Linked DNA regions of Homo sapiens: region 2 is linked to region 1. Evidence: fine-mapped expression QTL. A gene starts in region 1. The other region holds a variant in brackets. All regions are shown on one strand. Distances are between the middles of the regions. Region 1 holds the start of STX1B (syntaxin 1B). Region 2 overlaps ZNF668 (zinc finger protein 668).

Region 1 (5,366 bases):
CCAGGAGTTTGAGTCCAGGCTGGGCAACAGAGTAAGACCCCATCTCTTAAAAAAGAAGAAGAAGAAGAAGGAGAAGGAGAAGGAAAAAAGAAAGAAGAAAGAGAAGGAAGAAGAAGAAGAGGAAGAGGAAGAAGAGGAAGAGGAAGAAGAGGAAGAGGAAGAAGAGGAAGAGGAAGAAGAAGAAGAAAAGAAGAAGAAGAAGAAGAAGAAGAAGAAGAAGAAGAAAGAAGAGGAAGAGGAAGAGGAAGAGGAAGAGGAAGAAGAAGAAGAAGAAGAAGAAGAAGAAGAAGAAGAAGAAGAAGAAGAAGAAGAAGAAGAAAGAAGAAAAGAAGAATGGGCTTTGCAATCAAAAGATACAAACAAGGTCAGACACAGTGGCTTATGCCTATAATACCAGCACTTGGGAAGCCGAGGTGAGAGCCCAGGAGGCTAGGACCAATCTCGTCTCTGCAAAAAAAAGAAAAAAAGAAAGTTAAATTAGGGCCAGGCACAGTGGCTCACACCTGCAGTCCCAGCACTTTGGGAAGCCAAGGCGGGTGGATCATTTGAGGTCAGGAGTTCCAGACCAGCCTGGCCAACATGGCGAAACCCTGTCTCTACTAAAAATATAAAAATTAGCCAGGCATGGTGGCAGGCACCTGTAATCACAGCTACTTGGGAGGTTGAGGCAGGAGAATCACTTGAACCCAGGAGGCGGAGATTGCAGTGAGCCAAGATCGCGCCATTGCACTCCAGCCTGGGTGACAGAGCGAGACTCTCTCTCAAAAAAAGAAAGAAAGAAAGAAAGAAAATTAGCTGGACACAGTGGTGTACACCTGTAGTCCCAGCTACTCAGGAGGCTGAGATGGGAGGATTGCTTGAGCCCAGGAGGTCAAGGCTGCTGTGAGGTGTGATTGCACCACTGCACTCCAGCCTGGGGAACAGAGTGAGACCCTGTCTCTGGAAAAAAAAAAAAAAAAGCAAACAAGACCCCAGCCCTGCCCTTTATTAACCTTGTGAACTTGGATATGTTATGTGACCATGCAAAGCCTCAGTGTCCTTGTCTATACACTTGGGATCTTAGCAGTGGCTACTGTGAGGTTGGGAGGTTTCTGGGAGCTACCAGCATAGTGAATGCAACACGTTGGATGCCCAGAACGTGCTGGCATTATAATGGCGGGGAGGCAAGGACAGCTTTCTGTGCTTTGAGTGGCTGGGTGGATGGAGATGACGCCATCTCTGAGGGAGAACACAGGAAGGAACACTTTGGGGACAGCCACCTCCTTGAGGTCCCCACGTCAGCGCTAGCCATGCCCACTGTAGTCATGGATCTACTCATGGCTCTGGTGGCATCTTCAATCTCTGTCTTCTTGGTGCCCAGCTCAGAGCTTAGGCATATAGTAGGGGCTGTCTTACAGGGGGAGGATCTGGCTCGCAGGTACAGATGTGGGCACTGCAGACACGGAGGTGCAGAAAGATGCAGGTAAAGAAGGAAGAGAATGCCAGGCATGGTGGCCCAGGCCTGTAATCTCAGCACTTTGGGAGGCTGAGGCAGGAGGATCGCTTGACCCTAGGAGTTCAAAACCAGCCTGGACAACATAGTGAGACCCTGTCTCTACAAAAAATAAAATTAGCCAGGTGTGGTGGCGCGTGCCTGTAGTCCCAGCTACTCAGGAGGCTGAGGTGGGAGGATCACTTGAGCCTGGGACGTTGAGGCTGCAGTGAGCCGAGATTGCACCACTGTACTCTAGCCTGGGCAACAGAATGAGACCCTAACTCAAAAAAAAAAAAAAAGAGAGAATGGACGGAGCCCAGGGAACCCTGAGGTTGAAGGGCTGTGGGAAAAAAGGTAAGGACCTGGAAAGAGGCTGGGAGACAACACTCACAGATCAGGTTGGGGGGTAGGTGGGCGGAGCACCACAGACAGGAGGGTTTCAGGAAGAGGGGCTCATCAGGGTCACATGCTGCTGAGAGGTCAGGGATGGTAAGGCCCGACTGGCGGTGTGGGATGAGGGTTTATCAGACACAGATTTGGCACCAAGGAGGTCACTGGGTACCTGGCAAGAGAATGCCGGGTGCGGTGGCCCAGGCATGGAATCCCAGCACTTTGGGAGGCTGAGGCAGGAGGATCGATTGAGAGTCAAGACCTGTCCCATTGGGGACCGGCGCCCCATTGCAGGGGGTGGGAGGAGCTGGTGTGGTGTAAGGATGGGGAGAGGAGAGGTGGGCATCAGAACAGGAGGTCACTCAGACCCTCAGGGGCACCTGATTTCCCCTCCCACTAAGGACAAATTTCATGTTCAACAGTCAGAGCCATCTGCAGATGGGCCAAGAGGTCCTGGGAGGTAGTGAGCACCCTGTCCCTGGAGGCAGACAAGCAGAGCTCCGAGACCCACCGCGGCGGGAGAGGCCCAGGCTGTGCAACACAAGCCCCGTGTCCTTCTCAGCAAGCACCTGGCTGGTTCCCTGCATCGTAAAAACCACACAGAGGGTCGGTCTTTCTATTTATAGTGTCCAAAGAGCCTCCTGCAAGAACACACATGGGCTCGCACCCAGAGGTGGTCGGCGCGCAGCCTCACGCAGACACCAGACACAAAACACAGCCGCGATCTGTGTCTCCTGGAAAGGGATCCACATCCTGGCTCCCAGGTTATTCCCTGAATTCATTCCGTCACCCCCTCTTTCCGCCGGGCCACCCCACCCCCCGGGCCACCCTAGCATCTCCGCTTGGCTCTCCGCATCTCTCCCTGCTCCTCGGGCTCTGCCCACCCCCACCCGCCTCCAGGCCTCTCCCGCCCCCTCCTCGGGTGTCCCCCAAGCCCGTGACTACAACCCCCAGGCGCCCCCGGCCCGGGTGCTGCGCATGCCCCCTGCTCCTTGCGCGCTCCCGCTCCCCCCGCCCTCGCTTCCTCCTCACCTCCCTCCGCCCCCCTCCCCCGCGCTCGGCTCCCGCATCCCTCCATCCTACCCTGTGCCGCAGCCGCATCGCCACCGCAGCCCGGCAGAGCCGAGCCCGGCCCAGGCCCCTGCCCCTGCCCGGCCCTCGGCCAGTCGCCCCCGGCCCCGCCCCCGCCCGCAGGCCCCCCGCAGCGGCCGCGGCGCCCCCCGGCGCCCCCAGACCCCGGCCTCCGGCACAGAGGCGGGAGACCCGGAGCAGCAGCAGAGGCAGGAGGACTAGGAGGAGGAGGAGGAGCCGTCGCAGGATGAAGGATCGGACTCAAGAGCTGCGGAGTGTGAGCTTGGGGGTGGGGAGAATGGGGGGGCGGGACCCCAATATTGGGGGAGCGCGTGGGGATGGAGTGGGGGAGGTGCTGGGACGTGGGGGCGAAGGATGAGATCGGAGGTTGGTAGCCGGAGCACCCCAGTATCTTCAGGCGCCTGATGTCTCTCCAGTGAACCTGCATTTTGGGGACAGTGCCTGGAAGGGGTTGGAGGCCATGAAGACACAAGGGGGCAGGAGAGGTCTCAGGGGCCTCGAACACCCCGCATTCCCAGGAGGGCCCCGGGGTCTGGTCTGGGGATGGGAGAGAGTGGATATCAGGAGAAACCGGAGGAGACTGTCATCCCCTGGGCAGGTTTGCCAAAGAGAAGCATGGGGGCGGTGACTGGGCCAGGCTGAGAGTCTAGCAGGACCCAGATTCAGGGGATGCTACGGGGAAGGACACAGGTTGGGACTGAGATGCCAGCACCTGGCAGTGAATGAAGTGTGTGTGTGTGTGCACACGCGTGTGTCACTCCCTATAGGGAGGGGGCATCTCTCCGAGACAGGGAGGGAAGAGGTGGCCTCCGGAGAGAGCCAGAGGGCCAGGGCCTGAGACAGGGTGACCCAGAGGTGGGAGATGGGGATGCAGAGGAGAGGGCCATGGAACACGGGCCGTGCTCTGCTTGGGGGAACTGGGGCACCCCGGGCAGTCAAGGGCTGATGCAGGCCCCAGGTCTGCAGGCCTGAAGAGGCCCGGCTCCAAGAGTCTGGCCAGGCAGTCCCTGGTTTTGGGGGGACAGGGGAAGGACTGCAGTGGAGGCTGCTACCTGGAGGAACTGGGGAGTGGGGTTCGATGAGAATGGTTTCAGGGGCAGGGAGGACGCTGGGGTATTTGGAGAAATGACCTGGGGCCCGAGGAGGCAGCACTGACAGTCCGCACTGTGCTGGGCTGGTGGTGTTATGTTAATAAGGGTACCGGCCCCGGCTGAGCTGCCCAATGCACTGAGCCTTTACAGGGAACTGGTGGGTTGTTACCCCAGGGGTTATTACCCCACTTGACAGATGAGGAAACTGAGATTCAGGCGTGGGAAGGGACTTGTCCAAGGTCACCAAGCAAGTGGGTGGGGGGCAGACTGCAATCTGGGTTTCCTGTCTGCTAGGTTGACACAGGTCTCTGCTTTTCTGGCCTTTGAAACAGAAGTTTCAGCACTGGGGGTGAAGAGCTGTCCCCTGGATTTGGGGGTGGGGACCCAGGTTACAGACAGACGAGAAGAAGGTGTTTGGAGGCAAGTGACCGCTGTCTCTGGGGACAGACAGGTTGCCAAATGGGAAGCAAGGAGGAGCTGGTGGCTGAGGGAGGGAATTTTAAAGGTTTCTTTATTACATTTTTACTGAATATACACTCAGGCATGAGGAAAGTGACAGTAATAATAAACATTGTTTGAAGTGTTTTATGCATATTCACTCATTTTGATCCTCACAGCAATCCTATGAGACTGGTTATCTCATTTCATAGATATATAAATATCTTTTTAGATATATAGATATATGTTATCTCATTTTATAGATAAGGACACTAAGCTCAGAGAGGTTAAGTAATTAGACCAAAGTCACACAGCTGGTAAAGGCAGGATTCAAACCCAGGCAGGCCGGCTTCAGCATCGGTGCTGTCAATTCCCCTCCTCAGTTTGCAGAGCAGGCTTTCATCCGTGATGTCATTAGAGCCCCACTGACCTCCTGGCAAGTGGACGGGGAGGCTCTTTCATTTTAGAGTTGGGGAAACTGAGGCCCAGAGTGGTTGAATAACTTTCCAAAGGTCACACAGCTAGCAGGTGAGGGATCCGGACTTGAACCCAGTTCCCCTGCTACCAGGACTATTCCATGACTCCAAAACCCAGGGAAATGGAAGTGGGTTGGGATCAGGTGGTGTGGAATTGGGGTACAATTCGAGAAAGAGGGAGGGAAAAGGCTAAGCGGGGTAAGGGGGAGGCAGGGGAGGGGGAGGCCTCATGAATGAGTCAGGGGCCCCTGCTCAGAGGTAAGGAATCCTGTTGGCTGTGGCTGCCGGAGGTGGTGTGGAAGGGTGAAGGGGCTGAGTGGATGTGGTGGCTTTGGTATTAGTCACAGCTCAGGGAAACTGGAGATTCAAGAGGGGGCGGGCGGGGTGGGAAAAGCTGACAGATTC
Region 2 (5,366 bases), 55 kb before region 1:
GAGCCCAGGAGTTCTAGACCAGCCCAGGCAACATAGCAAGACTTCATCTCTACTAAAAATAAAATAAAAATTAGCCAGGCATGATGGTGCATGCCTGTAGTCCCAGCTACTTGGGAGGCTGAAGTGGGAGGATTGCTTGAGTCTGGGAAGTCAAGGCTGCAGTAAGCCATGACTGCACCACTGCACTCCAGCCTGAGCGACAGAGTGAGATCTTGTTTCAAAACCAAACAAACAAAAGTATTGGCTGGAATGATCCAGAGTGTATTTAAAATACAGATTCCTGAGGCCTACCTCAAGCTCTTTAATAAAAAAAAAAAAAAAAGTCTGGGCGTGGTGGCTCTCGCCTGTAATCCCAGCACTTTGGGAGGCCGAGGCGGTCGGATCACGAGGTCAGGAGATTGAGACCATCCTGGCTAACACAGTGAAACCCCGTCTCTACTAAAAATACAAAAAACTAGCCAGGTGTGGTGGCAGGTGCCTGTAGTCCCAGCTACTCAGGAGGCGGAGGTTGCAGTGAACCAAGATCGCGCCACTGCACTCCAGCCTGGGCAACAGAGTAAGACTCCATCTCAAAAATTATATATATATATATATATATATATATTTTTTTTTTTTTTTTTTTTAATGGTGGGATGTTAGACAGAGACCTAGCCTACCTGGCCTCTTTGTGTAGCTGGGCGCATGCTGAGACCAACCTGGCACTCCCCTACCTTTTCCCCTGGGAAGTGCCATGGGAGGAGGGATTTCCCCTCCAGCTACCTGGTGTCTAACTCACAGATAGGAAGGCTGAGACCCAGAGCTGGCAAGAGGCAGTAGAAGGGCCAGAGCTCAGAACCACTGGGTCAAGCCCTCTGAGAGGGAAGCAGAGACATAAAGGGTGCCGGCCAGGGTCTCAGGGCAGTTCTGCAAGGATGAGAGAAGACACAGGTATGACCTGAGCTCAGGGTTCTGGTCACTGTGGGGCTGGCGGAGGCAGCAGACAAGCGTAAGAGGCCCCAGACCACTGAGCAAGACCCCAGCAACTTAAGGCAAATTAAACACCTGGACTGAAGTCCCAGCTGCTTAGGTTACCCATTGTGGGACCATGGGCAAGTCACTTAACTCTTGGAACCTCGATTTATTCCTCTGTAAAGTAGGGACAAGAATCCCTATCTCAGAAAGGTATAAGACATTAAATTAAATAAACCAGCACACCCAGCAATGTGTCTGGCTCTAAGAAGACGCTTTGATAATTGAGGACAGTAATTATTTTTGACTCATTCATTCCTCACCCAACTCTGTCAGGTAAGTACTGTCATTATCTCCATTTTTCAGATTAGAAAACTGAGGTTCTAAGACATGCAGTACATTACACACGGTCACATCAGCTGGGAAGTGATGGAGGCAAAATCTGAAGCCAGACAGTTTGGCTTCAGGGACTGGGCACTTAACAAAATACTGAACCATTTCTCTGGACCTTGGTTCCCTTATCTGTGAAAATGGAATAATAGAACTTTCCTCATGGGGTTGCCATGAAGGGTAACTGAGCTAATACACATAAGGAGTTTAGGATACTGCCTGGTATTTGGCGAGTGCTCAGTAAATGTGAACTATCTTTTTTATCATTTATTTATTTATTTATTTTTGAGATGGGGTCTCACTCTGTTGCCAGGCTGGAGTGCAGTGGCACCATCTTGGCTTACTGCAACCTCAGTCTCCTTAGGCTCAAGCATTTCTCCTACCTCAGCCTTCTGGAGTAGCTGGGAGTACAGGCATGCTCCACCATGCCTGGCTAATTTTTGTATTTTTTGTAGAAATGGGATTTTGCTATATCGCCCAGGCTGGTCTTGAACTCCTGGGCTCAAGGGATCCACCCGCCTTGTCTTGAACTCCTGGGCTCAAGCGATCCACCCGCCTTGGTCTCCCAAAGTGCTAGTGTGAGCCACTGAACCTGGCCCAAGCTATCATTTTTATTAAGGAGGAACATTATCAGGCAGACTCTCCAGAAACCGTCTGGAAGAGGTAGTGAGTACCTCATCCAGAAATAGGGAGGGATCCCTTGGAAACTGTAGGAAGAATTCAAGTCATCAGAAAGGTTAGAATTCAGTCCCTTTAACTTATCTTCAAGCCCCAGGATTGATTATTGATTGATTGATTGATTGAGACAGTGTCTTGCCCTGTCTCCCAGGCTGGAGTGCAGTGGTACAGCCTTGAACTCCTGGGCTCAAGCAGTCCTCCCACCCCAGCCTCTCAAGTAGGCAGTACTACAGGCACATGCCACCACATCTGCTAATTTTTATTTTTAGTAGAGATGGGGTCTCACCAGGTTGCCCAGGCTGGAGCGCAGTGGTACGATCATAGTTCCCTGCAGCCTCGAACCCCTGGGTTCACAGGATCCTCCCGCCTCAGCCTCCCACGTAGCTGGGACTTAAGGCGCATGCCACCACACCTGGCTAAGCCCTAGGATTTAGTGGGAAAAGTGAAATAACCAAGTGAGAATAAGATGGAGTTTTGTGGGATTGGGGCCAAACCCAAAGGGGAGATGCTTGAGGATCCTCCTGGTGGAAGTGGGGCTCCAGTGAAGGACTTGTCAGATTTGGAACAAGCAGGAAGGACCTGGGGATTTGCATGGTGTGGTGGAAGCCATGGAAAGTTCTTGAGCAGGGAACAGGAAACATCATTCATTACTTTTGGGAGAAGACCGGCTGCATGGGGTTGGGGAGGGAGGGCAGCGTGCAGGCCTGAGGCCGGGATTTCAGGCAGAAGGGTGCTGACT[T/C]TAAGGATGTGGCCCTTGCCACGCGTCAGGGGCTCCTGTGTCCTCCCTGGGTCAACCAGGTAAGCTGCTTCTCCCGCCCTTTCCTGGCATAAGGGGCCCTGAGTCTCTGTATTTCCCCTAGCACCCTCGTGGCTCAGCTCAGTTTCCTCCTCCTGAACCCCAGTGTCATAACTTAGAAGCCACCAACCCCTAACGTGTCCAGATGAGGAAATAGTCTTTTTATTTTTTTTTTTTTGAGACGGAGTCTTGCTCTGTCGCCCAGGCTGGAGTGCGGTGGCACGATCTTGGCTCACTGCAAGCTCCGCCTCCCAGGTTCACACCATTCTCCTGCCTCAGCCTCCCGAGTAGCTGGGACTACAGGCGCCCGCCACCACGCCCGGCTAATTTTTTTGTATTTTCAGTAGAGACGGGGTTTCACTGTGTTAGCCAGGATGGTCTCGGTCTCCTGACCTCGTGATCCGCCCCCCTCGGCCTCCCAAAGTGCTGGGATTACAGGCGTGAGCCACCACGCCCAGCCGGGCGGAAATAGTCTTATAAACAACACTCATTTCACTGAGGTCTCATAGTAATCCACAGGGCTGCAAGTAGAACGTAGGCCCCCTAGCCTCTGGGCACACCTGGCTCCCTGCAGCCCCCACTCCTCAGACCCCTTCCCCCAGCAGCAGCTGCTGAGCACTCCTTAAGTGGATCTGCCATAATCCTCTTCCCTTCATCCCCCAGGGAGGATGAGCTGGTGTTAAGACTAATACAGCCATTAATCCTGTTTCCTCCCAACCATGATCCCCAGGAGCAGCTGGGTGGAGGGCGTCTGGGTTCTGGACCAGAAAGTAGGGATCTCAGCTAGAGCTGGTATCCCAGGAGGCCATGTTAGATCAGATACATCAGTTATGACTCAGAAAGAGGCTTCCAGCTGCTAGCAATGGCTCAGGCTGCCTTGAGTGATTCTCCATTACCAGAGTTGTGGGAACAGGCCAACAAGATTCCAGAGCAGAGAGTGGACAGATTCCAGTCTGGGGCGGAGGCCCGTACAGCTGTGCAAGGCCAGAATTCTGTGTGAACAGTTGCTGTCTCTGAGGACTAACCATCCAGAGGAGGAAAGAAAACACAAATGCTGGGGACCTGTCACTTCCAGACAGTGCCAGCTACCAGATTTAGCCCATTGGCTCAGCCCTTTTCTGGTCCCAGGTCTGTCTTTTCTGGGCGCTTGGAGACCTTCAGGCCAGGCCCACGTCTGGGTACACTCTTTATCCTGGCATAGTTCTTGGACACTGAGCTGAAGAAGGAAGATGGTGAGACAGATGGAACCTGGGCCTCTGGGAATGCCACAGTGTTTGGAAAAGCCCGTTGGGGGCGGGGGGGGACGTGTAGGTGAATCTTTTGTGACCCTCAGCCTCCTTTCTTAGTGGCTCTGCGGACACTTGGTCCAACTCCTTTCTTCAATGAGCAGATCAGGGAGGAAACGAACGCAGGATGTCAGAGCCAGGAATGCTGGGCAGGAAGGATGTGTGGGTTCCGAGGTGAGAAATGCAGATGAGATAGGGTTCTCTCTGAGGCTTTCAGGAGTGGCGAAGGTATGTGGCTTTGGTCTAACTTTGCTTCTCTTGCAGAGAAACCCCGTTCACCAAGGCCATGGAAGTGGAGGCTGCAGAGGCCCGGTCCCCAGCCCCCGGCTACAAGCGCTCGGGCCGCCGCTACAAGTGCCTGTCCTGTACCAAGACATTTCCAAACGCGCCCAGGGCAGCGCGCCACGCTGCCACACATGGGCCGGCAGACTGCTCTGAAGAGGTGGCCGAGGTGAAGCCAAAGCCAGAGACAGAAGCTAAGGCAGAGGAAGCCAGTGGGGAGAAGGTGTCAGGCTCCGCGGCCAAGCCTAGGCCCTATGCGTGTCCGCTATGCCCCAAGGCCTACAAGACGGCACCCGAGCTGCGCAGCCACGGGCGCAGCCACACGGGGGAGAAGCCCTTTCCGTGCCCCGAGTGCGGCCGCCGCTTCATGCAGCCCGTGTGCCTGCGCGTGCACCTGGCCTCGCACGCTGGCGAACTGCCCTTCCGCTGTGCGCACTGCCCGAAGGCCTATGGCGCGCTCTCCAAGCTCAAGATCCACCAGCGTGGCCACACAGGCGAGCGGCCTTACGCCTGCGCCGACTGCGGCAAGAGCTTTGCTGACCCTTCAGTGTTCCGCAAGCACCGGCGTACTCACGCTGGCCTGCGGCCCTACAGCTGTGAGCGTTGCGGCAAAGCCTATGCGGAGCTCAAGGACCTCCGCAACCATGAGCGGTGAGGGTGCCTTCCGGGGCAGGGCGCCTTCCGGGGCAGGGCGACAGCGTTGCTGCAGCCAATGGGGCCTGGGTTTGAGTCTCAGGGTAAAGTGAGCCAATGGGAAGGTGGGCATGGCAGATCCAAGGGGAGGGGCTAGGCATGTGGGAGAAATTGGTGCCCCTGATTGGGCAGAGGTGGCAACCACCTTGAGGTTGATCTCTGAGAATGGGATTGGGTCAGATTGGCCTCCGTTGTAGGCCAGCTGGAAAGGGGGCGGGGTTTGGAGTTGGGCAGTTCTGAGGGTCTTTTGTGGAGACCAGGAGGTGTGAGTGGGGCCTGGTTTGTCTAGGTCA

Evidence for each region. PIP is the estimated chance that this variant, and not a neighbour inherited with it, causes the effect.
Region 2: its variant is the best candidate, but not a certain one, in a credible set for the expression of STX1B in subcutaneous fat (GTEx, PIP 0.55).

Annotation. Positions count from the first base shown.
Region 1 is chr16:31,008,213-31,013,578 of GRCh38, reverse strand. STX1B (syntaxin 1B) reads left to right here and starts at 2,941. Exons shown (of 10, transcript NM_052874.5): 1 at 2,941-3,212. The coding sequence starts at 3,183. RefSeq lists an enhancer at 2,404-2,905.
Region 2 is chr16:31,063,478-31,068,843 of GRCh38, reverse strand. It overlaps ZNF668 (zinc finger protein 668), which reads left to right. Exons shown (of 3, transcript NM_024706.5): 2 at 4,363-5,031. The coding sequence starts at 4,385. Among named protein-coding and RNA genes, the nearest start is that of ZNF668, 8.1 kb to the left of the region's middle. RefSeq lists enhancers at 3,939-4,566, 4,567-5,194. The variant T/C (reference allele first, on the strand shown) is at 2,756.